Homo sapiens: one gene and its partners. The protein of the gene in region 7 interacts with the protein of the main gene of each other region in a biochemical or structural test. Each region holds a gene or a part of one and is shown on either strand. Other genes may lie near its edges. The genes, in order: MFN2, MAGI1, MAGI3, EIF4B, ARRB2, USP30 and PRKN.

Region 1 (3,720 bases), on a different chromosome or scaffold from region 7:
GGAGGTCCAAACTGGAAGGCACCAGGTTTCCATTTCTGGATAATCTAGGCCAGGGTCCCTGGGCCCCATCCTTGCTCTGCTTAAGTATTACTACCTTTCAGATGGGCTCAACCAAATCCTCTGGCCTCTTGGCTTTCCTCTGGAGTCTGGTTACTATACCTATTTATCAGTACCCTGCAGATGTCCCAGGGATGGTCTGTAAAAGATAGGAGGGATGCTCAAAAGTTGGTGGGGGAGGTTCTCAATCTCAGCCCAGTGCCAGCATGTGTACTGGGGGTGGGGAGTTGTGGCGGAGTCAGAGGTGTATTTTATTTCCCTTGAAGAAACACTTTGCCTTGGCTTGGTGGACTGGTTATAACTATACCAACATGTACAGTATTGTAGTGTTTATCTGGACTCACATCAAGTCACAACTTCACCTTAATTGTATATCATCTTTTTTTTTTTTTTTTTTTTTTGAGACAGAGTCTTGCTCTGTCACCCAGGCTGGAGTGCAGTGGTGCAGTCTCGGCTCACTGCAACCTCCGCCTCCCGGGTTCAAGTGATTCTCCTGCCTCAGCCTCTGGAGTAGCTGGGATTACAGGTGCCCGCCACCATGCCTGGCTAAATTTTGTATTTTTAGTAGAGACGGGGTTTCACCATGTTGGCCAGGCTGGTCTTGAACTGCTGACCTCATGATCCGCCCACCTTAGCCTCCCAAAGTGCTGGGATTACGGGCATGAGCCACTGTGCCCCGCCTGGTATATCATCTTTAAAGTAGAATTACAAGTAATTCTGTTTTTATAAAAGCAATAGATATATGTGTTTAAAAACACTCATTTCTGCCAGGCACGGTGGCTCATGCCTGTAATCCTAGCACTTTGGGAAGCTGAGGCGGGCAGATCAGGAGGTCAAGAGATCGAGACCAGCCTGACCAACATGGTGAAACCCTGTCTCTACTAAAAATACAAAAAAATTAGCTGGGCATGGTGGTGCGTGCCTGTAGTGCCAGCTACTTGGGAGGCTGAGGCAGGAGGATCGCTTGAACCTGGGAGGCGGAGGTTGCAGTGAGCCGAGATCGTGCCATTGCACTCCAGCCCGGGCGACAGAGCAAGACTCTATATCCAAAAACAAAACAAAACAAAACAAAACACTCATTTCCAGGCAATCTGGAAGGATAGGAAATGGGAAGTAAAATCCGTTAATGAGGGCCAGGCCTGATTTCTCTCCCGTCCCTGGCTTTCTCCTCCATGACCTGCCTGCCTCACAAGTCCCAGGTCTGTTCTCAGCAGGAAGAATAGGGCTCCTGCTCTGCCTGATGATTTGGTTTACCCCTGTCACCTTTAGCCCTGGTATTGATGTCACCACAGAGCTGGACAGCTGGATTGACAAGTTTTGTCTGGATGCTGATGTGTTTGTGCTGGTGGCCAACTCAGAGTCCACCCTGATGCAGACGGTAACTCCTCCTCTGCCTTCTCCCAAGCTCCCAGCACCCCCTGGGCAGGCAGCTGATGGGGCCTTGGCTGTCAAGCTCCTGCTCCACCGAGGTCTTACCCTTTATCTAGGAAAAGCACTTCTTCCACAAGGTGAGTGAGCGTCTCTCCCGGCCAAACATCTTCATCCTGAACAACCGCTGGGATGCATCTGCCTCAGAGCCCGAGTACATGGAGGAGGTTCGTGCTTCTGTTTGGCAGTTTGGGGAATGCAACCCCGAGGGAGCACTGCCTGCCACTGGGGCCACTTCCTGCACCCCTGGATCTAGTGACTTCCCTGAATTAATTTTATTGCCAAAGAATTCTCCAAATACTCTTCTGTGGTATCTTCTGGTGGTCTTTCCCCTCTCCCATCCACTTTGCTGGATGCACCCCCTCTTCAAGCCACTCTCCCCTAGGCCTAAAAAGGATCCCTGCTGCATTAGTGCATCTTCAGTGCCGGTGCTCAGTTTGGTTTCTGAGGAATTAATACAGAACAGGCTCAGCTCTAGGGAGGCCTCTGGGAAAGAGGCTGGAAAGAGGAATGGAGAATAACTGGTTCTTACTGGTGACTTACAACTCTTAGCTATTTACTTATTTATTTAGAGACTGGGTTATGAGGCTGGCTAATTTTTGTATTTTTGGTAGAGACGGGGTTTTGTCATGTTGCCCACGCTGGTTTTGAACTCCTGGGCTCAGGTGATCCACCTGCCTCAGCCTCCCAAAGTGCTGGGATTACAGGCATGAGCCACCACGCCTGGCCTCACAACTCTTTAAATATGTGAAATGAAAGACAAAAGGGTAACAAACGGCATGGTGGTGCACACCTATAGGCTGAGAGAGGATCCCTTGAGAGTAGGAATTTGAAACCACCTTGGGCGACGTAGCAAAACGCCATCTCCAAAAAAATAAAGGGTAGGCCGGGCGCGGTGGCTCACGCCTGTAATCCCAGCACTTTGGGAGGCCGATGTGGGCGGATCACGAGGTCAGGAGATCGAGACCATCCTGGCTAACGTGGTGAAACCCCGTGTCTACTAAAAATACAAAAAATTAGCCGGGTGTGATGGTGGCAGGCGCCTGTAGTCCCAGCTACGCGGGAGGCTAAGGCAGGAGAACGGCGTGAACCCGGGAGGTGGAGCTTGCAGTGAGCTGAGATTGTGCCACTGTACTCCAGCCTGGGCAAGAGAGTGAGATTCCGTCTCACAAAAAATAATTAAACAAATAAAGGGTAATAAGATTGATAATATGGCAATATGGGATGATAAAACATGCAGTTGCAGTCAGTAGGCCAGAGTCCAAATTATTTATTTTTTTCGAGATGGAGTTTTGCTCTTGTCACCCAGGCTGGAGTGCAGTGGCACAATCTCGGCTCACTGCAACCTCCACCTCCAGGGTTCAAGCAATTCTGCCTCAGCCTCCCGAGTAGCTGGGATTACAGGCACCCGCCACCACACCTGGCTAATTTTTGTATTTTTAATAGAGATGGGGTTTCACCATGTTGGCCAGGCTGGTCTTGAACTCCTGACCTTAAGTGATCCGCCCGCCTCGGCCTCCCAAAGTGCTGGGATTACGGGCGTGAGCCACTGTGCCCGCTTGTGACTGACACTAGGCAGTGTGACTTTGTTAGCTTCCTTGACCCTTCTGGTAATCCAATTTCCTGGCCAGTGTGATGGTGTGATAAATAGACTTGTTGAGAGGATGAAATCTGTCAAAAACACCTGACACGTGGTAGGTGTCTACAAGAAGCTATTGTCACATTTTATCGGTAGAACCCCAGGATGTCAGAGCCAGGAGGGATGTTCTAGTGATGCCCACTCCTTTTATAAACAATGCCCCAGGAGGACACAGCTTGTCAGAGTATAGGTCCCAGATTTAGGTTTCTTGACCTCAGGGTTCCTTTCCTGCCAGGGCACCAAAATGAGGCACTATATAGGCTTAACAAGAGGCAGTCTAGGGCACGTTTAAGCATTTCTGCTTGTATATGCATAAAATATCTTTGGCACGCTCACTGCCAAGTAACCCCCACACGTTGGTCTGGGAAACTTGGTGGTGAGAGAGCAGAATAGTGGGGGACATTACACTGTGTATGTGTTTGTGCCTTTGGCTGTTGAGCCATGTGAATATATTGCCTATTCTTTTTTTTCCCTCACTCTGTCGCCCAGGCTGGAGTGCAGTGGTGCTATCTTGGCTCACTGCAACCTCCGCCTCCAGGTTCAAGTGATTCTCCTGCCTCAGCCTCCTGAGTAGCTGGGATTACAGGCGCCTGCCA
Region 2 (4,330 bases), on a different chromosome or scaffold from region 7:
CTCAAACCCTGCAAAAATTACTGTCATTCTAAAGTACTTTAATGTGCCGTTTGCATGTGTTCAACAAAGGCTTCCAGAGGAAGGCTAGTTGAATATATATTACTTCCCTTCTATCTCCTTGCAAATCAGAACTTAGCCATCCTCTTCATTTGATGCTAATCCTCAGCAAATGAGGTCATTATGAAAGTCAGAAGAGTTGTAGCTTCATATCAAGGGAACAAAAATCGGGTTTGTGCTACAAAATAAGCTCATAAAAAAGTTACTGATTTCTTACTGTCCTATGTATTAAACCAAGATTTTTTTTTTTTCTTTCTACAAGAAAGTTGTAGAGCTGGCCAGTTCTAGGTCAGCTTTGATTCCTTCTTCCTGCCCATAAGCTTTGAACTTTAATTCTCAAAATACTACATATCCTTTCAGGCTCAGCTCAAATATAACTTTCTTCCCTTGGAAATTCCTCCTTCCTCCAACTGCCTTCAGATTTTAGCATTCCCTCCTTGCCATTCTAGTGACTCATGGTTTACTGCTGTATCAGAATCTGCCATTTTGAGACAGTGAATTGTGTGAGTGTTTGTCCTTTCCCTTGAAAGCTCACGTTGAACACACCTTGGTTGTTCACCTTTGGATGCAGCTCCCACCTTGAAACCTTTAAGGCAGAACCCAGAGTGCAGCAGAGGTGATTGTCTTCTATCAGTGGAATTACTGGAGAAATATGACCTGAAATATTATGAATTCTCTTGGCATTCATATTAGTGAAACAGATACCTGTCAGATAAAATTAATTGGTAACTTCTTTTAAAAAAAAAGAGTATAACCCATTTTAAATGGTATATGATTAATTATAGAATTAAGATGTTAAATTCCAGTGTGTTTGTGACCTCACAATCCTTCTTAACATACTATTCCATGTAGCTAAAAGCAGTCAGCTGGAACGAGTTTTTGAGATGAGATGAAAACTAACTATCTCGCTTCCCTGGCCCAAATAGAAATAGTAAGGCAATGTGATTTTTTTTGTTGTTTCAGGTTTATTTTTTTAAATCTTAAATATTTTGGATTTTTAGCTCTGTGTAAAAGGCGTGTCAAATCTATGAAGAGACATTATGCAAGTGAACTAGTCACAAAAGGAGAAATATTGATTCCCTTTATATGAGATACCTAGGGTAGTCAAATTTATAGAGATAGAAAGCAGAATGATGGTTGGTGGGGGGTGGAGGAAATAGGAAGGGGAATTAGTTTTTAATGAGTACAGAGTTTCAATTTGGGAAAATGACAAAATTCTGGAGATGGATGATGATGATGGTTGCACAAAAATGTGAATGCACTTAATACCACTCAACTGTATGCTTAAAAATGGTTTAAAAATTTGTTATGCTTATTTTTCCAAAATTAAAACAATCTATGAAAAGAGAAGCTTTTGGAAATAAATACAGTCTGATCCAAAACTTGGACACAACACACATTTTGTTTTTTGGCATAGTTGGTTCCACCTACGGTGTTGGCTATTTAGGAGTGCTTTACCTTGCAGTCTGATGGTAACACTAGAACGGTGACTAAATTCAGAAGGAGGCCAGTGTATCCAGTTCTGTGATCAGAGTCGATGTTGACACCTGGAAGCTAAGAAGAGAAGCATGTGTATGTCTCACAGGTGTTGTCATGAACCCCACATAGGGCGGGTAGCCTCAACGTTACCATCACCTTACTGTTTGTCGCCTGATGGAAAAAGCTGGGTGGAAATGTGACTGGAAAGTAATGACAATGTGAACGTGCATCCAAGGTTGTATCTATGAAGCCAAGATGGCGGTCTTCACGGGTGTAGCCCTCACCTACGCTTAGGCCCTTCCCTTTGTGCAATGGGGAAATATTTCACAGCAGGCCGATCTTGCTGCAGACTTGATTCTGAGTGTGGATGTCGACATATAGCATGCTATAAACAACAAACGCTATTTGGGAGTCCCATTTGGTGTTAGGTGGGATCAATGTTCGTAGATACTGAATGGTTAATATTTGTCAAGAGAAGCTGCTTTCAATCCGTATATCCAGGTATTGTGAAACCAGGTGCTGTCTCCTCCCCTCGGTTCACGTTTTGATTTCTAGCAGGAGTTGCTGGAAGGAGGGAGGGGCAGCAGGATGGAGGGGCTGCAGGACACGGTGATGTACGCGTGCATCTCTCTGCTACAGTGCCCAAAACCGAGAACGAGGTGCCCTCGCCAGCCTCCTCTCATCACAGTAGCAACCAGCCGGCCTCGCTGACAGAAGAGAAGCGCACTCCGCAGGGCAGCCAGAACTCGCTGAACACGGTGAGCTCGGGCAGCGGCAGCACCAGCGGCATCGGCAGTGGCGGCGGCGGGGGCAGCGGCGTGGTCAGCACCGTGGTGCAGCCCTACGACGTGGAGATCCGGCGCGGGGAGAACGAGGGCTTCGGCTTCGTCATCGTGTCCTCGGTGAGCAGGCCCGAAGCAGGCACGACCTTTGGTGAGTGCTGAACGTGAAATTACCCAGGGTTTCCCACCATGCCTGGGAGTTTTTGTTCTCTTGCGAGTGAAAGCTGACTCAGACCTCACGTGCAGAAATGCTTTATAGCTTCTTGCTCTGGGTAATTAAAGACTTAATTGGAGATGGAGTTGATTTGGTAGCTTTTTCCCTTTTGAAGGTTGGGAATATTTGTTCAACCCTTTCAACTTCCACACTGAGAATGTGATCACGCATACACAACTTAAAGCATACATCAGATTTGCGTGAAATTTGAATAGCAGCCGGGCGCTGTTGCTCACGCCTGTAATCCCAGCACTTTGGGAGGCCGAGGAGGGTGAATCACTTGAGGTCAGGAGTTTGAGACCAACCTGGCCAACGTGGTGAAACCCTGTCTCTACTAAAAGTACAAAAAGTAGCTGGGCGTGGTAGTGCATGCCTGTAATCCCAGCTACCTGGGAAGCTGAGGCAAGAGAATCGCTTGAACCTGGGAGGTGGAGGTTGCAGTGAGCCGAGATTGTGCCACTGCATTCCAGCCTGGGTGACACAGCGAGACTCTGTCTTAAAAAAAAAAAAAAAAGAAAAGGAAAGGAAAGAAAAGAAATTTGAATAGGAACCCCTGGACAGCATACAGAGTCTACAGTTTTTGCCAAAGCAAGGCTTTCGAAAGGTCTTGAATAGGATAGCACTAATTGCAAGGGCCTCAGAATGGTCTTAAGAATGTCTTAAGAGTTTTTACAAGGAGCATACGGCTGTAAAAATGCTCTAGGAAAAACAGAGGTGTAAGGAGTAAAAATACTACATGAGATGCTAGTCTGCCTCATCTGTGTTCTTTCTCTACTCTATCCCCATAGGAATTTTTTTTAATTTTAAATAATATTTTTACTGTTGCTTGATTTAAAGTCTGGTTAAAATCTGAGTTAAGAGTCATTCGATTTTCCTGTCTCGTCCAGACATTGAGGGTTTCAGCAAAGTATGGAGAAACACAGTTGTCACTTTCTCAGAAGGATTCACTCTCTTCTGGGTACACTAGCAAAGACCAATAGAAACCCAGATGATTGCAGAAACTAGTGATATATGAATCTGCTTCCCATTGCAATGGATTGATTATAGATGTACACTCCAAAAATGATCCACCTTCCTGATTGGGTAAAAAGTCATTTGTTATCTCCCAAGCACATTTGTTACTTACTATGGAATACAATGGGAGAAGGGGAAGGGCTGTGCAGGCTGTGTGGGCTTTTCATGTACCTCAGCTCTATCCCTGAATGACTTATCCACATGGAAACTGGCTAGAATCAGCAAGGTGCTACAACCCTTTAGCATTCTCATCCAGTAGAGCTCACTTGGCCTCCATTTAATCCTGGTGTGTTGCTTCCTGCTGGAGCTGTCTCCCCGTAAGTTTTATGTTTAACAGGGGACAGTGACTCAGCCAGGTCTATGCATGTGTGGCTGCAGTAACAAACGCCTATTACTAACAGTGCTTTTTGAGCTACATTAATAAAGTCATCATAGCATGTCATGGATGGATGACCTGACATCAAAGCAAGGTTTTTTGGTTTTGTTTTAAAATTAATTTCAGAGACTTTCTTGCTTAATATAAAAATAAAGAGAAGGAAGAGGGGAGAAAGAAATCCCAAATTATTTTCTTCAGATCTACAGTTTGACTGTCTCCATGCATCCTGTGACGTTCCTAACTATTTCAGAATTGTCAGTTTCACCTTCTAGAAAGAAATAGCAAATATGTCAAGTGGCAGGTTATGTGTTATATAATGAATATTGTATTCACACTCACAATTTGGTCTTTGATTGTTTTCCTTTGGCTCTTACAACGAACAAATTAAACTTTCCCTAATACCTTGCA
Region 3 (4,330 bases), on a different chromosome or scaffold from region 7:
ACATACATTTTAGAGAGGAGTTAGAAAAGGGAGAAGGTCTGTGTTAGAAATCTATCTTTTCAGCAGTTAATAGAGGTTTCCAAAATTCAAATTTAGTTGCTAAATTGTAGTTATTTTTGCCCCTCTAGCAAAAAAATTAACTTATTTGTTGATTTTAATATTTTTAACATGATTATGTTTTTCCAGGCGATGTTATTGTAGACATCAATGGCAACTGTGTCCTCGGTCACACTCATGCAGATGTTGTCCAGATGTTTCAATTGGTACCTGTCAATCAGTATGTAAACCTCACTTTATGTCGTGGTTATCCACTTCCTGATGACAGTGAAGATCCTGTTGTGGACATTGTTGCTGCTACCCCTGTCATCAATGGACAGTCATTAACCAAGGGAGAGACTTGCATGAATCCTCAGGATTTTAAGCCAGGAGCAATGGTTCTGGAGCAGAATGGAAAATCGGGACACACTTTGACTGGTGATGGTCTCAATGGACCATCAGATGCAAGTGAGCAGAGAGTATCCATGGCATCGTCAGGCAGCTCCCAGCCTGAACTAGTGACTATCCCTTTGATTAAGGGCCCTAAAGGGTTTGGGTTTGCAATTGCTGACAGCCCTACTGGACAGAAGGTGAAAATGATACTGGATAGTCAGTGGTGTCAAGGCCTTCAGAAAGGAGATATAATTAAGGAAATATACCATCAAAATGTGCAGAATTTAACACATCTCCAAGTGGTAGAGGTGCTAAAGCAGTTTCCAGTAGGTGCTGATGTACCATTGCTTATCTTAAGAGGAGGTAAGTAAAAGCACAACATAGAAAAAGTTTCAGTGTTCAAGCGTTTATATCTACTGATTGTCTTTCCTTACAGTTTAGAATGTGTTTTCCCAGCAGACTTAACTAGTAATTAGTGTGCATTTTCCTTAAGGTTCTGTCTGATTGTTTCCATAAGCAGTGTCTTTTTCAGCAGTTTTTAAAAAATTATTAGTGATTTCATTCATGTCCATTATGGATTTATTTCCCTCTGTATTCTTTTGAAAATCTGATTCATGGCTTTAATGATTAGAGAGAGTCACAGCATTGTGATACTTCAAATGAAATACATCCTCTTAATTTCATTTCTCTGTTGATGACAGTAATAGAAATTGACTCTTTCAACCAATGGTGTGTCATCTGGACCTCTGTAATGCACCAAAGATGTTTTGAAAGAGCTAGCATCTCTGTGGATAAGTAAAATGTTGGATGGTGTATTAATCTGTTCTGCAGAGGCAATCATGATAGCATGTGCTCATAAAGTTTTCATCTTAAGCTCTAGTATCTGACTGTAAATGTTAATTAAACCACACAGTGCTTATGTGAGAGAAATATAATTTTTATTTTCCAAGGTCATCAGCTGACATGAACTCCTCCCAGACATTTACAAATTCAGTTCCAAGGAATAATCACAAAGTTGAATTTTAATATGCTTTCTTAAATCCATACTTATAAGTGACTAGTATCTTAAAGAATAAAAGCCACTTACTCTTTTATCTCTCTGGATTTTACTTTTCACTATTGAGGCAAACGAGCACTTCAGCTTCTTTGGGAGTTGTTTCTTATTCTCGTTTCTTTGATTCACATGGGTTTCTTCTCTGAGTGATGGTGGAATGTGCTCCAAGTAAGGTAGAAATCTCTTTGTGAGTGCTTGAGAGTAATCCAGGGCTTCAACAAGTATAACAAAGACACCAAAGTTCAATGTCACACAGGTTTGATGTCAGTTTCCTGCCTTGCCACTTACTGGTTCTTTGGTATAGGAAAGAATCTTAGTTTACCTTCTCTGTAAGATGGTCATAACATTTGTGCCTTCAGATTGTTATAAAAATGAAATGAGATAATATATGTATAATGCCTGGTACATAGGAGGTTAGACACAGAATTTACTAGCGTACTAAAAGTTGAAGCTAGTTTTATCGTAAACATTAGCAGTATTTGTGATCTGGGAATGCATCCTCTGGTTTTAAACTTTGGTTCATTTTTTTTTTAAGGTCCTCCTTCACCAACCAAAACTGCCAAAATGGTGAGTATACACTGGTCCTCAAATCTTTTCCCCAACACACTGAGAGAGATGCCACATTCCCCTCTGTAAGAGGAGCTCACTGTGGTGATGATTATCGACTGGGAGAAGTTAGGAGGCATGCTGCCCTTGGCTTGTATTTATTAGAAACTAGGGAAGCGTTTGAAAAAGCCCCCTAGTGAGGAGATGTGCTCCACTGGTTAAGTATTGCAACTGGAGGATTACTAAAGGCCTATTGTACCAATAATCCTGTTCTCTAAGTTATAAAATGTGAACACATTAAAGAACCAACCTAGAGGTCTTTTTACTTTTGTGTTTCAGAGAAACAAGGTAGGAAGGACCTAAATGTTAAGACAGATGATAAACTATTACATCGTCTTGCCCCTGCCTGAAGAGAAGACGTACTAGTTCACATAATTTTGTGGGGACTATAAATATGCATGCACCTTTAGATAATCTTCTTACTTTTAAGACTAAATTAGGCTTATTTTTTTATTATTTATTTTTTATTTATTTATTTATTTTTTGAGACGGAGTCTTGCTCTGTCGCCCAGGCTGGAGTGCAGTGGCGCTATCTCGGCTCACTGCAACCTCCGCCTCCGGGGTTCAAGCGATTCTCCTGCCTCAGCCTCCCAAGTAGCTGGGACTACAGGTGCACGCCACCACACCCAGCTAATTTTTTTGTATTTTTAGTAGAGACAGGGTTTCACCATGTTGGCTAGGATGGTCTCAATCTCTTGACCTCATGATCTGCCCGCCTCGGCCTCCCAAAGTGCTGGGATTACAGGCATGATACACCACGTCCGGCTGACTAAACAAGACTTTCTAGAGTAATTGTGGCCTTCTATGCTAAATTTGCTTGTTGTCAAAGTGAAAGACCTGAAACAGTGTCTTCTTTGGCATTCTTCTAAATAATCACGTAGCCTGTTTAAGGACCTGTGCAGAGAATAAGAACTTTAAAAAGGAGTGCATCAAATGCTGCTGTTGTGGAAGAAACTCTACAAGGTGCACATTTGTAGCTATTTAAATATCCACAATGTTTTGGATATAAAGACAATTTTATTTAAAATTCTAATTTAGTTCTAGTTTGCTCCTTTGGAGTCTTTTATCTCAAAATCAAAAGATGGCCTTCCATAACCATAAACTATAGACAATTATATTAAATGAATTAGTTCTTTCTAGCCCACCAAGTAGGAATCCTCTGCAAATTTGCTGTTTTATAGATTAAAAAGAATCCCTCAGCTTCTGGCCTTTTTTTTTTTTTTTTTTTTGAGACAGAGTCTCACTCCATCACCCAGGCTGGAATGCAGTGGTGTGATTTTGGCTCACTGCAGCCTCTGCCGCCTAGGTTCAAGCAATTCTTGTGCCTTAGCCTCCCAGTAGCTGGAATTACAGGTGCACGCCACCACACGCAGCTAATTTTTATATTTTTGGTAGAGATGGAGTTTCACTACATTGGCTAGGCTGGTCTCAAATTCCTGACCTCAGGTGATCTGCCCACCTCGGCCTCCCAAAGTGCTGGGATTACAGGCATGAGCCACTGCGCCCGGCCAGCTTCTGCCCTTTTCATTGACTGCTTATACTACTTGGGTCCAGTGTGAACAGAAATTGTTTTTGTCCATTCAGTTCAAATTGCACTGTATTCTACATTTCTCTGGTTCCTCTAGTAATCATTTTTAACTCCTGTGCCACCATATTTATTTCATAATGGATGCCACTGCAGTCGCAGTGGCCCTAATGCTTTATAATTGATGGAAGGGTCTGATGAACTTTAACCGCCTCTGACAGAATGCTAAGATGTATGGGGAAGGGTAGGAGACTACTGTTAGCTTCTCTGCCTTCTCATTGGGTCTGGGTGATTGAAGGGTCCCCTCTAGCACGACACTTTGTAGTGGCTGACCCCTGATTACTCCCTGACAGACTGGTGCCCCTGCATTCTAGTCATTGTTAATGATCACAAACATCCATAATCTCCCTCTCCTAACAATAATCCAGGAAAACGAGCTGGTCTCAAAACCATATTTCTTAGGCCATTTATTGGATTTCATTGTTAACATTTTATTAAATAAGTCATTTTGCTTGGCTGTTATCTTGGGAAAGTTCTAGCTGAATAGGAAAAATATCAAAATATGCTACTATGCTTTCCCTTATCTAATTGTCTTGCATGGTACATTTTCTCTTAATATATGTGAATTGGCCAGACAGGGTTTTCACAGTGCCATCTTTATAACCTAAATTAGAGTTAACCTCTCCTGTTTTCTTAGAAAGAGTATTATCTTAAAC
Region 4 (4,330 bases), on a different chromosome or scaffold from region 7:
TCTCATGTAGCATTTCATAGGAGTTATATCTGAGAAATCTGGCTTTCAGCCATCAGCTTCTGGTGATTGGAAAACTATTACTTAAAGTTTCATTTAACTTAGGTCCCCCCCAAAGACCCAAACTGAATCTAAAGCCTCGGAGTACTCCTAAGGAAGATGATTCCTCTGCTAGTACCTCCCAGTCCACTCGAGCTGCTTCTATCTTTGGAGGGGCAAAGCCTGTTGACACAGCTGCTAGAGAAAGAGAAGTAGAAGAACGGCTACAGAAGGAACAAGAGAAGTTGCAGCGTCAGCTGGATGAGCCAAAACTAGAACGACGGCCTCGGGAGAGGTGTGTTGTCTTGATGGATATCCCATCTAGGAATCCGGTGGTTCGTAATGGGGGCATTACATCCCCAGGGGCATTTGGGAAATTTGTGTCGTTATCACATTAGTGGTTGTCACTGATGGGCATTTAGTGGGCTGTGGCCAGGGGTGTTAGGCAGTATGCAGTGTTAGGGACAGTTTTACACAATGAAGAGTTGTTCCCTGTCCATTACAAAAGTGTTTACTATTAAAAGCTGGTATTGTATCTAAAAGGCTAGAGACCTACTATAATAAGTAATTGCCCTGAAAAACTAGGCCTGGTAATGAGTGGCTTGTAGAACTGTGTTGATTAGTAAAGAAGGGCAGTATTGTAGATTATGTAGGATACTGTTCTTAACCATATTAGTTGATTCTTGCTGAAGTATTTAGGGCCAAAGTGTGTCTTAATGTCTGTAGCTTTCAAATAGTTTGAGGGAAAGATAAATTTATATGCATATACACATATAGATGAAGTAAGTGATGGTTCTTGAGGGGTCAGCATGGGTCTAAGGTGGCCTTCACTGAGCCAGGCATAATGTGTATTTTGTGAATCTCTCGTACAGACACCCAAGCTGGCGAAGTGAAGAAACTCAGGAACGGGAACGGTCGAGGACAGGAAGTGAGTCATCACAAACTGGGACCTCCACCACATCTAGCAGAAGTAAGTCAGACCAGGGTGGGTATCGTGTTATTGCCGTTTTCCATAAACTATCCATAACCAAATTATGCAGAGACCCTGCAATATTTAAATTCAGTCATGAACTCTTTATTTGGGTTGCATGGGCCGATTGGAGTTTCATATCTTCTGCTCCAAAGAATCTGAGGAATGGGTACCAGAGTAGACCTAGATGATCTGCTTAATAATCTACCACTGAAGTGTATACTTGGTTGTTAGGTTTGTCTCTCTCTTTTTTTTTTTTTTTTTTTTTTGGTATATTTTCATTTTATGTCTTGACATCTTTGAATGTTGTTTATTCAGAACAGTCAACGGCTTGGAGTTTCATGTGAGCTGTCCCAAGACCAGCCTTTTTTGATGTTATCATCACCAGAGCAGTGTTCTCAAGCAGTGTTATTACTGGTTGATCAAGCACTTTTAGTGTTTTGGAAACCTAAATGGTTCAATTGTAATACCTCCCTTCCCTTACCATGATGTGTTTTTTTTGTATTTTGTTTTGAGACAGGGTCTTACTCTGTCACACAGGCTGGAGTGCAGTGGCATGATGATGGCTCACTGTAGCCTCACCTCCCTCAGCCCTCAGCCTCCCTAGTAGCTGGAACTGTAGGCATGCACCACTACACCCAGCTAAATTTTTTATTTATTTATTTTCTTTTTTTTTTGAGACCGAGTCTCGCTCTGTCGCCCAGGCTGGAGTGCAGTGGCGCGATCTCGGCTTACTGCAAGTTCTGCCTCCCGGGTTCATGCCATTCTCCTGCCTCAGCCTCCCGAGTAGCTGGGACTACAGGTGCCCACCACCACACCCAGCTAATTTTTTGTATTTTTAGTAGAGATGGGGTTTCACTGTGTTAGCCAGGATGGTCTCAATCTCCTGACCTCATGATCCACCCGACTCGGCCTCCCAAAGTACTGGGATTACAGGCGTCAGCCACCGCACCCAGCCTACACCCAGCTAAAATTTTGTAGAGATGGTTTCCCCATGTTGCCCAGGCTGGTCTCAGCCTCATAAAGTGCTGGGATTCCAAGGGCCAGCCACTGTGATATTTTTTAAGGTCTTTCCTCCCACCTCTAAATTGATTTGTACTTGCATTTCATTCATTTATTTATTTATTGAGATGGAGTCTCGCTCTGTTACCAGGCTGGAGTGCAGTGGCACGATTTTGGCTCACTGCAACCTCTGACTCCCTGGTTCAAGCAATTCTCCTGCCTCAGCCTCCTGAGTAGATGGGATTACAGGTGAGCGCCACCATGCCCGACTAATTTTTTGAACGGGCTGGTCTCAAACTCCTAACCTCATGATCCACCCGTCTCGGCCTCCCAAAGTGCTGGGATTACAGACGTGAGCCACCATGCCTGGCCTTCTATTTTTTTTATTTTTTATTTTTGTATTTTATTTATTTATTTTGAGACGGAGTTTCGCTCTTTTTGCCCAGGCTGGAGTGCAATGGCATGATCTCAGCACACTGCAACCTCTGCCTCCCGGGTTCAAGTGATTCTCCTGCCCAAGCCTCCCGAGTAGCTGGGATTACAGGAGTCTGCCACCAGGCCTGGCTAATTTTTTGTATTTTTAGTAAAGACGGGGTTTCACCATGTTGGCCAGGATTGTCTCCATCTCTTGATCTTGTGATCTGCCCGCCCTGGCCTCCCAAAGTGCTGGGATTACGGGCGTGAGCCGCCGTGCCCGGCCTAGTTTTTTATTTTTAAGACAGGGTTTCATTCTCACCCAGGCTGGAGTGCAGTGGTGCGATCATAGCTCACTGCAGCCTCAAACTCCTGGCCTCAAGCAATCCTCTTGCCCCAATATCCCAAGTAGCTGTTATACGACGGGTGCACGCAACCATGCCTGGCTAAATTTAAAAAATTTGTTTTTTTAGAGATGGGGTCTCACTACACTCCCCAGGCTGGTCTCAAACTCCTGGCCTCAAGCAATCCTGCCTCAGCCTCCCAATGGGGGCTCCTTGTTTTTAGAAGACACTTAACTGCATTTTTTAAAAAACGCACGTGTAGGTTGTTGTTTTTTGAGATGGAGTCTCACTCTGTCAGCCAGGCTGGAGTGCAGCAACATGATCACAGCTCACCTCATCATTTCTAGTAGCTGGGACTGCAGGCACATGCCACATCCAGCTAATTTGTCTATTTTTTGTAGAGCTGGGGTTTCACCATGTTGTCCAGGCTGGTCTGAAACTCTTAGGCTCAAACGATCCGCCCCCAACAGCCTCCCAATATCCTAAGATTACAGGCGAGAGCCACTGCACCCAGCCAGTAGGTGGTTTTTCATAAATATGATTGCATCATAGTCCATGTGTGTTGAGTTTTAAGCTGAAGTTGAGCAGTGGTTACTAGAGTTTGGGGTTTCATTGTAGGTCCTCTTCACATATGTATATTCTCCAGGTCAAGACACTTTTAACATTGAGAATGCAGAAAGGCTGTAAAGGATACTCATTCCTAAAAAGGTCACATGGCTGGGTGTCCCTTAAGTTGTATACATGGTCATTATTTTTTCTATTTCTCTGTGCATCAGTAAGACATTGTTCTGGAAATACTTGTAAACCACTGGTTTAGGGATAAATCCATCTTTGGGAGCCAAAACTTGGATGTGGACCATTTTCCACACTGTTGAGATCCTGGTAGATGCGTGAGCATCTGCAGCCTGATAATTTGATATTTTCACTCTGGCTTCACAGATGCACGAAGGAGAGAGAGTGAGAAGTCTCTAGAAAATGAAACACTCAATAAGGAGGAAGATTGCCACTCTCCAACTTCTAAACCTCCCAAACCTGATCAGCCCCTAAAGGTAATGCCAGCCCCTCCACCAAAGGAGAATGCTTGGGTGAAGCGAAGTTCTAACCCTCCTGCTCGATCTCAGAGCTCAGACACAGAGCAGCAGTCCCCTACAAGGTGAGTCAGTTTGGAAACAGTAGTTGGTTAACTGCAGATTCTAAAATACTGTGATGTAATGATGGAAGATCTCCTACGGGATGCCAGCGTTGTATAGCACCTTATAAGTTATGCTGGCTTTAGTCTCTTAGTGTGCTGGAACTGGCTCATAAGACCTAGTTGTTCCATTTTCTGGAGTTCCACCACTTTGATAGCTTGAAATCAGCTATGATGGGAGTACTAATGCCGCACAAATCTGCAAATACTGTAAGTCAGAGGCTTCCCTTTTGCCACATATTGGCAGTATGGTAGGGGGTAACTTCCTTTCATTTCTCTTAAGTCTTCTCATTTGTAAGCAAAATAGCAACACTATTAGCCTGGCGTGGTGGCAGGTACCTGTAATCCCAGCTACTCGGGAGGCTGAGGCAGGAG
Region 5 (4,330 bases), on a different chromosome or scaffold from region 7:
CTACTAAAAAAATACAAAATACAGGCCAGACACAGTGACTCAAGCCTGTAATCCCAGCCTTCTGGGAGGCTGAGGCGGGCGGATCACTAGAGGTCAGGAGTTTGAGATCAGCCTGGCCAACATGGGGAAACCCCATCTATACTAAAAATATAAAAATTAGCGGCCGGGCGTGGTGGCTCACGCCTGTAATCCCAGCACTTTGGGAGGCTGAGACAGGTGGATCACGAGGTCGGGAGATTGAGACCATCCTGACTAACACAGTGAAACCCCATCTCTACTAAAAATACCAAAATTCGCCGGGCGTGGTGGTGGGTGCCTGTAGTCCCAGCTACTCGGGAGGCTGAGGCAGGAGAATGGCGTGAACCCGGGAGGCAGAGGTCGCAGTGAGCCGAGATCGCACCACTGCACTCCAGCCTGGGCGACAGAGTGAGACTCCGTTTCAAAAAAAAAATTAGCCAGGCATGATGGCAGGCACCTCTAATCCCAGCTACTCAGGAAGCTGAGGCATGAGAATCGCTTGAACCCAGGAGGTGGAGGTTGCAGTGAGCTGACAGCGTGCCACTCTACTCCAGCCTTGGTGATAGAGTGAGACTCCATCTCCAAAAAAAAAAAAAAAATACAAAACATAGCCGGGCATGGTGGCTCACTCCTGTAATCCCAGCTACTCAGGAGGCTGAAGCAGGAGAATCACTTAAACCTGGGAGGCGGAGGTTGCAGTGAGCTGAGATCGCACCACTGCACTCCAGCCTGGGCAACAGAGTGAGACTCTGTCTCAAAAAACAGAGTATTACAAGAGATGACACATTTGAAACACTTGGAACAGTGCTGGGCATGGAGTAGTCACTCTGAAATGTTAGCAGCATTACCATCTTCATGATATGGCTGGCATTGTGCTGGAGATGCCTAAATTAATAAGGCCTCTGAGGCTCACAGTCTGAGGAGGGAGGGAGCTAACTATCCTTGTGTGCTACCACACCACAAGTAAAACATAAACAAGGTGTGACAGGAACCCAAAACAAGGAGCGACCAGGGTCTGGGCTGGGTCAGCTTCCTAAAGGCTGGGCCTTAAAAGACAAATAGGCTTTTAAGCTCTTGAGGTCGGAGTTGGGGACAGTTGGAGGTGAGTAGAGTCGAACTTGGGTAGGGCCTGTGGTAGAAACTATCTGAGGGCCAAAGGCCAGGGTCATTGCTCTCCTATATGCTCCAGCTGTCAGAGCTGTAGACCAGATGGAAAGATGGTTAGGTCTTATCCAGACACTGTGGCTACCTGCCCATTCGGGTCCTCTGGGAAGAGCCTGGGTGGTTCCTAGGGCAACCAGTGGCCATTACTGGGGAGGGAAGGGGACGAATGAGGGTGGACAAGACAAGGGGCATTTCCCCTTGCCACCACGTTAGAAATAGGAAGGACCTTCCGGGAAGAAGGGTTCCCCTTGCCACCACGTTAGAAATAGGAAGGACCTTCCGGGAAGAAGGGTTCCCCTTGCCACCACGTTAGAAATAGGAAGGACCTTCCGGGAAGAAGGGTTCCCCTTGCCACCACGTTAGAAATAGGAAGGACCTTCCGGGAAGAAGGGTTCCCCTTGCCACCACGTTAGAAATAGGAAGGACCTTCCGGGAAGAAGGGTTCCCCTTGCCACCACGTTAGAAATAGGAAGGACCTTCCGGGAAGAAGGGGAAAGGGGCAGAGCTGGGCAAAGCCCCACAGCCTCAGGCAGGAGGCCTGGGTGAGCACTGCTTCTCAGGCCTGGGAGGGAGAGGGTCCTGGTGTGGGGTCCCTGCTGAGTCTGAGGGAGGCAGTGGGGTTTCCCTTTCTGTTTTGTTAGGGTCTTCAAGAAGTCGAGCCCTAACTGCAAGGTGAGTCTCCACAGCACTTACCCTTTTGACCCTCCCTGGGCCCCAACAAAGCCCAGCCTTCCCCTAGACGATCCCCAACCTACCCAAAGATGATCCCCAACCCCTAGCTCCCCACTTCCTGTGACAGCTAAGCGCCGACTTCCTTCCCTCCTGAAGCCCCTTGCCGCAGAGGCTGCTCAGCCTGAGCCAGCCACAGGGCTGGGTGGGGCAGGCTTGGGTCCCCAAGCAAGACCACAGAGGAGGAGGCCAAAAGCAAGCCATGTGCCTGTAGCCCTCCTAGGAGCCAACCCAAGGTGCGTGGGGCTGGGAAAACCTAACAGCCCCCGGGCTATGGCCTATTTATCCTAGAGCCCCTTGAGGGGACCTAGTGAGGGTGGCAGCTGCTCTCTAGCTGGCTGGTTGGGCTGAGTTCTCCCCGAGGATCCAAACACACACACACACAGACACACACACACATACACACATACACACACACCTGGCTGGTTGGGCTGAGTCCTCCCTGAGGATGCAAACACACACACACGGACACACACACACACACACGGACACACACAAACACACCTCGCTGGTTGGGCTGAGTCCTCCCTGAGGACACACACAGACACACATGCACATACATGTTCACACACACACCTGACTGGTTGGCTGAGGACACACACACACACACACACACACACACACAAACACACACACACCGGGCTGGTGGGCAGAGGTGTGCAGAGATAAAGGAGCAGCTCAAAAGCCTAAAGGTCCACTAGTCTGAGAAACGCCACCACCCTCACTTTCCAACACTATTGGGAGGAAACCTGGAACAACTCCTTCCTGATAGCCCAGCCTGGAGATCCCCGGGCAGGGCAGCCAGTTTTGAGGGCTCCGATGCCCTGTCACCATCCTCCCCAATCTCCCCTGTGACCCCTTGACATCCTCAGCTCACCGTGTACTTGGGCAAGCGGGACTTCGTAGATCACCTGGACAAAGTGGACCCTGTAGGTAAGTTTTCCCAGAAAGGGACAGCTCGTTCCCCAAGAGGGGAAGAAGTTCCCGGGCCCAGGAAAGCGGGGAGCGGCCCTTTCAGGAAGTGAGCTGGTGTGTCCCCCTCCTAGATGGCGTGGTGCTTGTGGACCCTGACTACCTGAAGGACCGCAAAGGTACTGGCCCCAAGTCCAGGGGGCCCAGGGAAAGTGGGGGCTAGGGAAGTGAAATGGGCTGGCCTTGGAAGGGCGCCCCAGAGAGATGGAGGCTGGAGGTGGAAGCCAGGAGTAGGGTTCAGGCAAGTCTTATGCTGCTGAGGGAGGAGCAGCGGCTGCTAGGTGCCAGGGGACTGGGGAAGTGGGGCTCCTGACCACTCATCTCACCCTCCCTTGCCAGTGTTTGTGACCCTCACCTGCGCCTTCCGCTATGGCCGTGAAGACCTGGATGTGCTGGGCTTGTCCTTCCGCAAAGACCTGTTCATCGCCACCTACCAGGCCTTCCCCCCGGTGCCCAACCCACCCCGGCCCCCCACCCGCCTGCAGGACCGGCTGCTGAGGAAGCTGGGCCAGCATGCCCACCCCTTCTTCTTCACCGTGAGGATGCCCCTGCCCTCTGAGGGCCAGGGGGCTGGGGCTGGGACTGTGTCTGGGGTGGGGGTAAGGCACTGCTGTGGGCAGATCTGGAAGAAACAGTGAGGCAGGGACCCTAGATCCACTTCCCTTCAGGGTCCCAGTGCATTCAGGAAGCCCTTGATTATCTGCCTCCTCTCTGGGGCCCCTTCCTTCTTCCCTTCTCATCCCCAGGAGTCCTTTCTCCAGCCTCTTTTTTGTTGTTGTTGAGACAAAGTCTCGCTCTGTCGCCCAGGCTGGAGTGCAGTGGCACAATCTTGGTTCACTGCAACCTCCGCCTCCCAGGTTCAAGTGATTCTTATGCCTCAGCCTCCCGAGTAGCTGGGATTACAGGCACGCACCACCACACACGACTAATTTTGTATTTTTAGTAGTGATGGGGTTTTGCCACGTTGGTCAGGCTGGTCTGGAACCCCTGACCTCAGGTGATCCGCCCACCTTAGCCTTCCAAAGTGTTGGGATTACAGGCATGAGCCACCACACCCAGCGTCTCCAGCCTCTTAGGTTGAGATTTGGAGGAAGATCTGGGGGCTTTCTGGAAGAACTGAAGTCTTCTCCTTCCTCCGCCACAGATACCCCAGAATCTTCCATGCTCCGTCACACTGCAGCCAGGCCCAGAGGATACAGGAAAGGTACGGGAGGAACAGCTCTGAGGGCTCCTAGGGCAGGACATGGGCCAGCAGGAGCCTGGAGGCACAGCTGAGCCAGAGGGTGAACTGTCGAGATGCCAGGGTGGGGCCGAGGGTAGGCCAGTGTCCCCCGTGGAAGTGGGGCGTATGTGGTGGTCATTGTGCACGCATGACACTGCCTCCTGCTCTGTGGACCCGCATGGATCTGGGGATGGGGGCTCCCCTTGCACTACCATGACCAAGCCT
Region 6 (4,330 bases), on a different chromosome or scaffold from region 7:
GAGAGTTCCTGCTTTTGGTGATGGCAGAGGTGCTTGGGTAGATTGGCCCTCCTTGAGATAACAATTGTAAAGTTTGCAACAAAACAAAACCGTTTGAATGAACGGAGAGCTACCAAAAGCAGGCAGAAATGGAAAAGAAGTCAACTGTTGGAAAAACAGAACTCTGTGGGCGAGATTTGTGTGTTTGTGGCTTTTTTTCCTGGTTGATGTGGTGCTGGGTGGCGAAAAGCAGCATCCTACAGGATTGAGTGGTCAGACGACAGAGTTCAAGAATCAGGGCTGGTGGAGAGACCAGGGGAAATGCCAGGAAGAAAGGAGACACAGAGGGGATGAGCCCCAAAGTTTATACCTAAACTCTGTTCAATTCCAGGGCTGATCCCTGAACCACACGTGCACAGGGGGAAACTCCAGGGAGCCTGGCAAAAAGTAGCAGCTGGAAGCTAAAAAAACTGAGCAGAGATTTTGCTGCCCAATGTAGGGGAGACAGAGTTGAGTTTGAGCCCAGCCAGGTTAACTGCAGGCCAGAAGAAAATTAATTTTTCTTCATAGATATGTAACAGAATCCCTACTCTCTATGTCTCTATTATGATGTTAAGCATACAATAAAAAATTACCAAACATAAAATACAAAGAAGTCAGCACACGAGGACCTCACAGATGTATCATAAATATGCTCAAGGATGTAAAGGAAAATATACAGTGACAGTGAATGAACAAATTGAGAATCTCAGAACAATGGAAACTATTAAAAAGAAGGCAATGGAAATTCTATAACTAAAAACAACAGTGATTACGATGAAAAATTTGTTGCATAGGCAAACAGAGATTGGAGATGAAAAAAGAATCAGGCCAGGTATGGTGGCTCACACCTGTAATCCCAACACTTTGGGAGGCTGAAGTGTAAGGATCACTTGAGCCCAGGAGTTCAGGACCAACCTGAGCAACACAGTGAGACCCTGTCTCTACAAAAAATAAAAAAAAATTAGCTGGGTGTGGTGGCACACACCTGTAGTCCCAGCTGCTCAGGGGGCTAAGGTGGGAGGATAACTTGAGCCTGGGAGGTTGAGGCTGCAGTGAGCTATGATCACATTATTGCAATCCAGCCTCGGTGACAGAGCTAAGACCCCTGTCACAAAAAAAAAAAAAAAAAAAAAAAAAAAAGAAAAAAAAAAAGAAAAAGAAAAGAAAAAAAGAGAAAAAAGAATCAGTGAACGTGAAGATAAGTCAATAGAAATGATCTAATTTAAAGAACACACAGAAGAAAGATTGAAGAAAATTGAACAAGACCTCAGTGACCTGTGGGCCAACATTAAGTAAAATAACAAGTGAAAAATGGGCATAAAATCTTTGTTGAAAAAATAACAGCCAAGAATTTTCAAACTTGGTTAAAAAAAGTACAAATTTAAGAAACTCAGCAAACCCCAAACAAGATAAATAAGATAAATACTAAGAAAACCACATCTATGCGCAGCATGAACAAAAATAAAGAGAAAATTTTGTAAGCAGTGTAAGCAGAAGAAAAACAAATGACAATTTACATAGACAAGAATGATATAAATGACACTAACTGAGAAAATGGAGGCCAGAAGACAATAGAACAATGTCCTTAAAGTGATGAATTTAAAATAAACCAAAGCAAAACCACGGCAACACTGTCAACCCAAAGTTCTATATCCAGCAGTAGTATTCTTCAAAAATGAAGGCAAGACAAAAACATTTTCATATACATGAAATCTAAGTGTATCTGTCAGCAGTACACCTATAACAAATGTTAAAAGGAAGTTTTTAGGCCAAAAGGGAAAAAACATCAAATGGATTTTGATCTACAAGAAAGACTGAGAACAAGAAAAATGGTAAACATATTTTTCTATTAATTAATTAGTAGAAGAGAAGGCAACTCTTTTTTTTTTTTTTGAGATGGAGTCTCGCTTTGTCGCCCAGGCTGGCATGCAGTGGTGTGATCTCGGCTCACTGCAACCTCTGCCTCCCAGGTTCAAGCAATTCTCCTGCCTCAGCCTCTTAAGAGAAGGCAACTCTTGCATACTACTGGTGGGAATGTAAACTGGTGCAGCTATTTTTTTTTTTTTTTGAGACTCAGTCTCACTCTGTCGCCCAGACTGAAGTGCAGTGGCGTGATCTCGGCTCACCACAACATCGGCCTCCTGGGTTCAAGCCATTCTCCTGCCTCAGCCTCCCGAGTAGCTGGGATTACAGACGCCCGCCACCAGGCCCAGCTAATTTTTGTAATTTTAGTAGAGACGGGGTTTCACCATGTTGGCCATGCTGGTCTTGAACTCCTGACCTCGTGATCCACTCGTCTCAGCCTTCCAAAGTGCTGGGATTACAGACGTGAGCCACAGCACCTGGCTGGTGCAGCTATTATGGAAAATTGTACGGAGGAGGTTCCTCAAAAAGTTAAGAACAGAACTACTGTATGAACTAGCAATACCACTTCCAGGTATATATCCAAAGGAAATGAAATGAAACACATATAACTCTTTAAAGCAAAAACTATGACACAGTATTGTGAGGTTTATAATGTATGTATAATAGCACAAAGGCTGGGGTAACAGAACTATACTTTTGTAATATTCCAGGATTTTACATGAAGTATAATATTAACTCTAAATAGAATGTGATAAGGTAAAACTGCATAACGTAATCTCTCACACACACCCTCCCCCCCCAACACAAACACACAAGAGTAAAGCTAAAAGGCCAACAAAGGTATTAAAATGGAATACTAAAAAGTATTCCATTAACCTGAAAGAAGCCAGTGAAGGGGGAACAGAGGAACAAGAAAATATGTAAGACAAACAGAAAACAAATGGTAAAATGGCAGACCTAAATCTAATCACATCAATACTTACATTAAATGTAAATGGACTAAGCATTCCAACTAAAAGATTGTCAAGCTAGTTAAAAAAGCAAGACCCATTATATGCTGTCCACAAAGTCACACTTTAAATACAAAGGCCGAAAATGACAGAAAGAAATGACCAAATAAACATTAGCTAGATTAAAAATGAATCATTCAAATAGACTTCAAGTCAAGGAGTCTTAGCAGAGATGAAGAGGGACAATTTATCATGACAAGATGAGTTAACTCATCATAATACATATGCTTGTATCCAATAACAAAGTTTAAAAAAAATTAGCAGAAATAGAGCTAAAGAAAAGACAAATTTTAGCAAACAAGCAAGAAATAATACCAATATTAAACAAAATCTTTCAGTAAACAGAGGAAGGAACATTTTCCAGCCTATTTTATGAGGCTAGTATAATCCTTATAACAAAGCCTGACAAAGACATCACAAGAGAAGAAAAGTGTAAGAACAATATTCCTCATAAACACAGATACTAATATCCTTTAGGAAATATTAGCAAATCAAATTCAATAATATATAAAAACAATAAAGCATCATGATCAAGTGGGGTTTATCCCAGAAAGGTTGGTTTAACATTAGAAAAATCAATCACTGGCTGGGCACAGTGGCTCATGCCTGTAATCCCAGCACTTTGAGAGGCTGAGGCAGGCGGATCACGAGGTCAGGAGATCGAGACCATCCTGGCTAACACGGTGAAACCCTGTCTCTACTAAAAAATACAAAAAATTAGCCGGGCGTGGTGGCGGGCGCCTGTAGTCCCAGCTACTCGGGAGGCTGAGGCAGGAGAATGGCGTGAACCTGGGAGGTGGAGCTTGCAGTGAGCCGAGATCACGCCACTGCACTCCAGCCTGGGCGACAGAGCAAGACTCCGTCTCAAAAAAAAAAAAAAAAAGAAAAAATCAATCACTGTAATTCACCAAGTCAACAGAATAAGACTAAAATATGATCATTTCAATGGATGCAGAAAAAACTGACAAAATCCAATCACTATTCATTACAAAAATTCTCAGCAAACTAGGAACAGAAGGGAAGTTTGTCAGTATGATAAAGAGGTATACTAAAACCTAAAGCTAATATCATACTTAATTATAAAACACCAAATACTTGCTTCAGAAGATTTGAAACAAAGCAAAGATGTCTGCCATCATCACTCTTATTTAACTTTGTACCATAAGTCTTAGCCAGGATAATAAGGCAAAGAAAAAAAAAAAAAAGGAATAAAGATTGGGTTGGAAAGGAAGAACTAAAACTATTTCTATTCATAAGCAACATGACTGTTTGCATACACAGAGAATGCTAAGGAATACATAACAAAACTTCTACAGCTTCTAGAAGTAATAAATGAATGTTTACAAAAATCTCAAGATATAAGGTCAATATATAAACAGCTGTATGTCTATATACTAGTGGCAAACAATTTGAAAATAAATTTTTTTAAATTC
Region 7 (4,330 bases):
CTCTGTGAAAGTGGACAGATATCCTAGGTTTTTTTTAAATTCAACTTTATATTAAAATGCTTACACATTCTAACGCAGTTGTAAGAGATAGCAGAGAAAGATGCCAGCTACCTTTTCCCCAGCTTCCGCCAGTGGTAACATCTTGCCAAGCTAGACGTTATAATTGTACTATAAGCATTGTTACAGTCAGCACAGAGGACGGCCGTCACCAAAGGGTCCCTTCTGTTACCCTTTCACAGTCGTACCCTCCTCTCACCTGCTTCCACCCCCTTCAGAACTGCTGGGAAGCATGAATCTGCCCTCCATTTCTATCATTTTGTCGTTTTGAGAATGTTATATAAATAAAATTATTCAGTGTACGATCTTTGGGGATGGGCTTTTTCCACACAGCACATTTCCCCTGAGATCCATCCAAGATATTTTGTATATCAACAGTCGGCTCCTTTTTTACTGCTGAGTAATATTCTAGGGTGTGGAGGTACCAGTTTGTTGAACCACAGATCCACTGAAAGACATCAGAGTTGTTTCCGTGTTCTGCTAATGTGAATAAAACTGCTATAAACATTCATATACAGATTTGTGTGTGTACCTACGTCTTCATTTCTCTAGGATAAATAACTAAGAGTATAACTCTGTCATCTGGTAAATACATATGTCATTTTTTATGAAACTGCTATATTCTTTTCCAGAGTGGTTCTACCATTTTATATTCCCAGTAGCAATTTGCGAGTAATCCAATTTCTCCACATCCTCACCAGCATTTGGTGTTGTCTTTATTTTGTATTTTAATTTACCTACTTTACCTATTACTCTAGATATTTCTTTATACATTCTTAACTTGTCATGCTCTACTGCAGTTGCTATTTTGTAGGTCAAGTTTAGAAATCTTACCTTTCCTTGCATCTGTGTTTATGTTTGCCTGAAATGTTTCTTCTACATGTAGAACTACATTAGACAATGCTATAACTTTTGCTGCAACCCTCTAACATAATTTAGAAAACTCAAGAGGAGAAAAACAGTGCATTGTATTTAACCATATTTTTGCTTACTATGTTTTTCCCTCCTTCCTAGTGTTCCAAAATTCCTTTTTTTGTTGTTTCATTTGTTTAGAAAATTTCTTTAGCCATTCTTTTAGGGTAGGTCTGCTGGTGACAAATTCGCTTAGTTTTTCTTTATCTAAAAAAAAAAGTATTGATTTGTTCTTTCTTCCTGAACGACATTTTCACTGGGTATAATATTACAGGTTGGCAGTTCTTTTCTTTCAGCATTTGAAAAACATTGTGCCACTTCCTTCTAGCCTTCATGGTTTCTGATGAGAAATCCACTGTAATTAGAACAATGTTAGCCCTATAGGGAAGGTGTGATATTTCTCTGGCTTCTTTCAAGATCTAAAATTTGTCTTTAGTTTTAAGAAGTTGAATTACGTTGTGTGTTGGTGTGGGTTTCTTTGGGTTTTTCCTGTTTTAGATTCACTCAGCTTTATAAATCCATCTATAACTTTATGTCTCTTGCAAACTTTGGAAGTTTCCAACACTTATTTCTTTGAGCATTTGCCCACCATTATCTTCTCCTTCCAGGAATCCCCTGACACAAACTTTAAATGCTCTGTTGGAGAACCACAGGTCTCTGAGGCTCTATTCCTTTTTTCTTTTTCCAGCCTACCTTTTCTTTGCCATTTGGACCGTGTCATTTCTATGTTCCAACTTCCAGTTCACTGACTCTTTTCTCTGTTCCTTCCATTCTTATGTCAAACCCATCAGTGAGTGTTTTATTTCAGAAATTTCAAACAAGAGGCTCTCCACTCAGCCTTTACTAGTGTTGGTGGGGACAAGGATAGGGCCGCAGTTTTTCTGTTGCATTTGGCTGGAGTAGACTGGTTATTGTCTAAATGTTTTCTATGTTGCTAGGCAGCCCCTTTCTGAGTCCTCTGGATAAAAAACAGGCCATTGTTGGGGATTTCTTCCTTCCTTCCTTTCTTCCTTTTCCCTTCCCTTCCCCCTTCCTTTACCCCTCCCTTCTCTCTCTCTCTCTCTCTCTCTCTGCCCCTCCCTTCCTCTCTGCTTCTTTTTTCTTCTCTTTTCTTTTTGTCTATATATGTTGACATTTCCTGGTTGCCAGCTTCTTCAGTTCCACATCTGAGGTAACGTAGCAAAAAGAAAACTCAAGAAATTCACCTCTGGATTCTTCCTTGGGTTCTAAAATCCCTACTCTGTCCACATTCTTCTCACTACTTTCAGAATCTTCCTAAGCTTGTACAGCGGACCCTTGAATAACATGGGTTGAAACTGCATGGGTCCATTTATATGCAGATTTTCTTCTGCCTCTGCCACCCCTGAGACAGTGAGACTAACTCCCCCTCTTCCTCTTCCTCTTTAGCCTACTCAACATGAAGACAAAGACAATGAAAATCTTGATGATCCACTTCTACTTAATGAATAGTAAGTATCCTCTCTCCTTTTTGTAATGCTGTTAATGTTTTCTCTAGTTTTTTTATTATAAGCATACAGTACATATTACATATGAAAAATATGTATTAATCAACTGTTCATGGTATCAGTAAGGCTTCCCGTCAATAGCAGACTACTGGTAAAGTGTGAGGGGAGATAAAAGTATACATGAGTTTTGTCTACATAGCGGTTGGCACCCCTAACTCCATGACTCCACGAGTCAACTGTACAATATGCAATGTCTAGGCTTTTTAGTGTAGTTGCTGGGAGGAAGAGGGAAAAGTATGCCTACTCCAGCTTCCCAGAAGCAAAATCTGTGCCAGATCATTCGTTTTCAATGTCTATATTTTTTCCATTTTCCTTTAATTTTTTAAAGTTCTTAAAGTCTTGCCAATAACAAAACTGAACAGATGAGTGTGTAATGAAAATAACTATACTCTAACAGTGCTTCTCTAAGTGGCCTGTGGATATGCTCTCCCAGAACTGAAAATTCTATGAAAATTTTTTAGATGTGACATCAATTCTATTATAATCTTACAAATACCCTTTGCCAGTTAAATAGACAAACTCGCTTTTTAAAATTATGACATTTCATAAGACTGTGGTCTCAAGCTATAGTTCCCCAAAGTACCTGAGGTGAGGCACTAAAACTAATTTCCTCCTCAAAGAAGGTGAAACTAAGTGTGAGAGATACTGCTCAGTATGTGGGGTGACCATTGCCTCAGTTTTCCTAGGACACTCCCAACATATAATTTTGTCCTGGAATAATTATTGACAGGGTCTTCTTTTATACTCACAATATCTCATTTTGCATGATAAGCTAATATATATGTTCATATCACCTATGATAAAGAATACGAAACCAGGAGGAAGACACCCAGCAAGCATAGACACCACCCCAGCCATCTCTTCTTCTCTTCAGGACACCAAGGTGTATATTTAACATTCATTAATGGAAGCATTAAGTAGCTCATATGGAAGGTCCATCTTCTTTTTCTCAGCAGCAACTTATTATTAGATATTTTGTGCTTATACTGTGAAATATAGCACCTGTAATGATAATGGGTAACTAAATGATATTGACTAAATAGTTGTAAACATATGTTCTAAGATTATACAAGAATATCTAGGATGCTAAAATTCTGCCAGTTGTACACTTAAAGAAAACATAGCCATCAATTTGCAATTACATGTGTAACTTCCTAGTCTTTACAGTGAAACTCTTCTATGAACAAAGTTTGCCAACTTCTCGGCACCTAAATCATTTAACTGTGATTTAATAGAAGTTCCATAAGTATGAACCTTTCTTTTTCAGTGTCCTCAGACACAAGTTCTCAACAGCCAGCTAGGCATCTCCAAACACACGTACTCAGCTGGCATCAACTCCCATCATGTTGGAACAATGCAGCATCCTTCCCCCAACCAAACCGGGTCTTCAGACTTCCCATTTCCTTCTATGGCATGACATTTTTCTCTAGTTCCCCACCAATGAAACTTCAATGCCAAGTTAGTCAAGGTTATGTGAAATATAGCCCATATTTTATTTTTTGTCCAATCTTCAACATCTCTCTTCAGGTTCTAGAAGAACAAGAACCCATCCTTTTTGGCAAGCATTCTCTATGCTCATTCCCCTATTCCTCCATCTACAGAATCCTACCTCAACTCAATTCATCCAAGAAGTTCTTCCTGGTGACTTCCAACCAGATGTGTTTTCTCCACCTTTAAAACTTCATAATATTTTCAGGTGCGATACGGCAGTTATGTTTCATATTCTTATATTATAGCTATTAGGTTGAACAACATGAAATTGTTGAACCTGTAAAAATGGCAATCCCATATGGTTCAATCTAATATTTCTCTCGGTTTTAGGGCTCATAAATAAA

Evidence for each region.
Region 1: of the proteins of PRKN (region 7) and MFN2, one has a biochemical effect on the other in vitro, tested with the Homo sapiens proteins (2 studies listed by BioGRID).
Region 2: the proteins of PRKN (region 7) and MAGI1 interact in a test that uses a peptide from one of them, tested with the Homo sapiens proteins (one large-scale study listed by IntAct).
Region 3: the proteins of PRKN (region 7) and MAGI3 interact in a test that uses a peptide from one of them, tested with the Homo sapiens proteins (one large-scale study listed by IntAct).
Region 4: of the proteins of PRKN (region 7) and EIF4B, one has a biochemical effect on the other in vitro, tested with the Homo sapiens proteins (2 studies listed by BioGRID).
Region 5: the proteins of PRKN (region 7) and ARRB2 form a complex in vitro, tested with the Homo sapiens proteins (one study listed by BioGRID).
Region 6: of the proteins of PRKN (region 7) and USP30, one has a biochemical effect on the other in vitro, tested with the Homo sapiens proteins (one study listed by BioGRID).

The regions. Positions count from the first base shown.
Region 1 is NC_000001.11:11,997,444-12,001,163, forward strand, and holds part of MFN2 (mitofusin-2), read left to right. Parts: intron 1-1,326; coding exon 1,327-1,435; intron 1,436-1,544; coding exon 1,545-1,652; intron 1,653-3,720. UniProt on the Homo sapiens protein: Mitochondrial outer membrane GTPase that mediates mitochondrial clustering and fusion. Mitochondria are highly dynamic organelles, and their morphology is determined by the equilibrium between mitochondrial fusion and fission events.
Region 2 is NC_000003.12:65,377,400-65,381,729, reverse strand, and holds part of MAGI1 (membrane-associated guanylate kinase, WW and PDZ domain-containing protein 1), read left to right. Parts: intron 1-603; exon of another isoform or gene 604-681; intron 682-2,175; coding exon 2,176-2,469; intron 2,470-4,330. UniProt on the Homo sapiens protein: Plays a role in coupling actin fibers to cell junctions in endothelial cells, via its interaction with AMOTL2 and CDH5. May regulate acid-induced ASIC3 currents by modulating its expression at the cell surface.
Region 3 is NC_000001.11:113,641,725-113,646,054, forward strand, and holds part of MAGI3 (membrane-associated guanylate kinase, WW and PDZ domain-containing protein 3), read left to right. Parts: intron 1-186; coding exon 187-792; intron 793-2,018; coding exon 2,019-2,050; intron 2,051-4,330.
Region 4 is NC_000012.12:53,033,704-53,038,033, forward strand, and holds part of EIF4B (eukaryotic translation initiation factor 4B), read left to right. Parts: intron 1-102; coding exon 103-331; intron 332-908; coding exon 909-1,006; coding exon of another isoform or gene 1,007-1,021; intron 1,022-3,705; coding exon 3,706-3,919; intron 3,920-4,330. UniProt on the Homo sapiens protein: Required for the binding of mRNA to ribosomes. Functions in close association with EIF4-F and EIF4-A. Binds near the 5'-terminal cap of mRNA in presence of EIF-4F and ATP.
Region 5 is NC_000017.11:4,713,190-4,717,519, forward strand, and holds part of ARRB2 (beta-arrestin-2), read left to right. Parts: intron 1-1,797; exon of another isoform or gene 1,798-1,823; coding exon 1,824-1,854; intron 1,855-1,996; exon of another isoform or gene 1,997-2,147; intron 2,148-2,783; coding exon 2,784-2,844; intron 2,845-2,957; coding exon 2,958-3,002; intron 3,003-3,222; coding exon 3,223-3,419; coding exon of another isoform or gene 3,420-3,482; intron 3,483-4,027; coding exon 4,028-4,087; intron 4,088-4,330. UniProt on the Homo sapiens protein: Functions in regulating agonist-mediated G-protein coupled receptor (GPCR) signaling by mediating both receptor desensitization and resensitization processes.
Region 6 is NC_000012.12:109,076,183-109,080,512, reverse strand, and holds part of USP30 (ubiquitin carboxyl-terminal hydrolase 30), read right to left. Parts: intron 1-4,330. UniProt on the Homo sapiens protein: Deubiquitinating enzyme tethered to the mitochondrial outer membrane that acts as a key inhibitor of mitophagy by counteracting the action of parkin (PRKN): hydrolyzes ubiquitin attached by parkin on target proteins, such as RHOT1/MIRO1 and TOMM20, thereby blocking parkin's ability to drive mitophagy.
Region 7 is NC_000006.12:162,437,325-162,441,654, forward strand, and holds part of PRKN (E3 ubiquitin-protein ligase parkin), read right to left. Parts: intron 1-4,330. UniProt on the Homo sapiens protein: Functions within a multiprotein E3 ubiquitin ligase complex, catalyzing the covalent attachment of ubiquitin moieties onto substrate proteins. Substrates include SYT11 and VDAC1.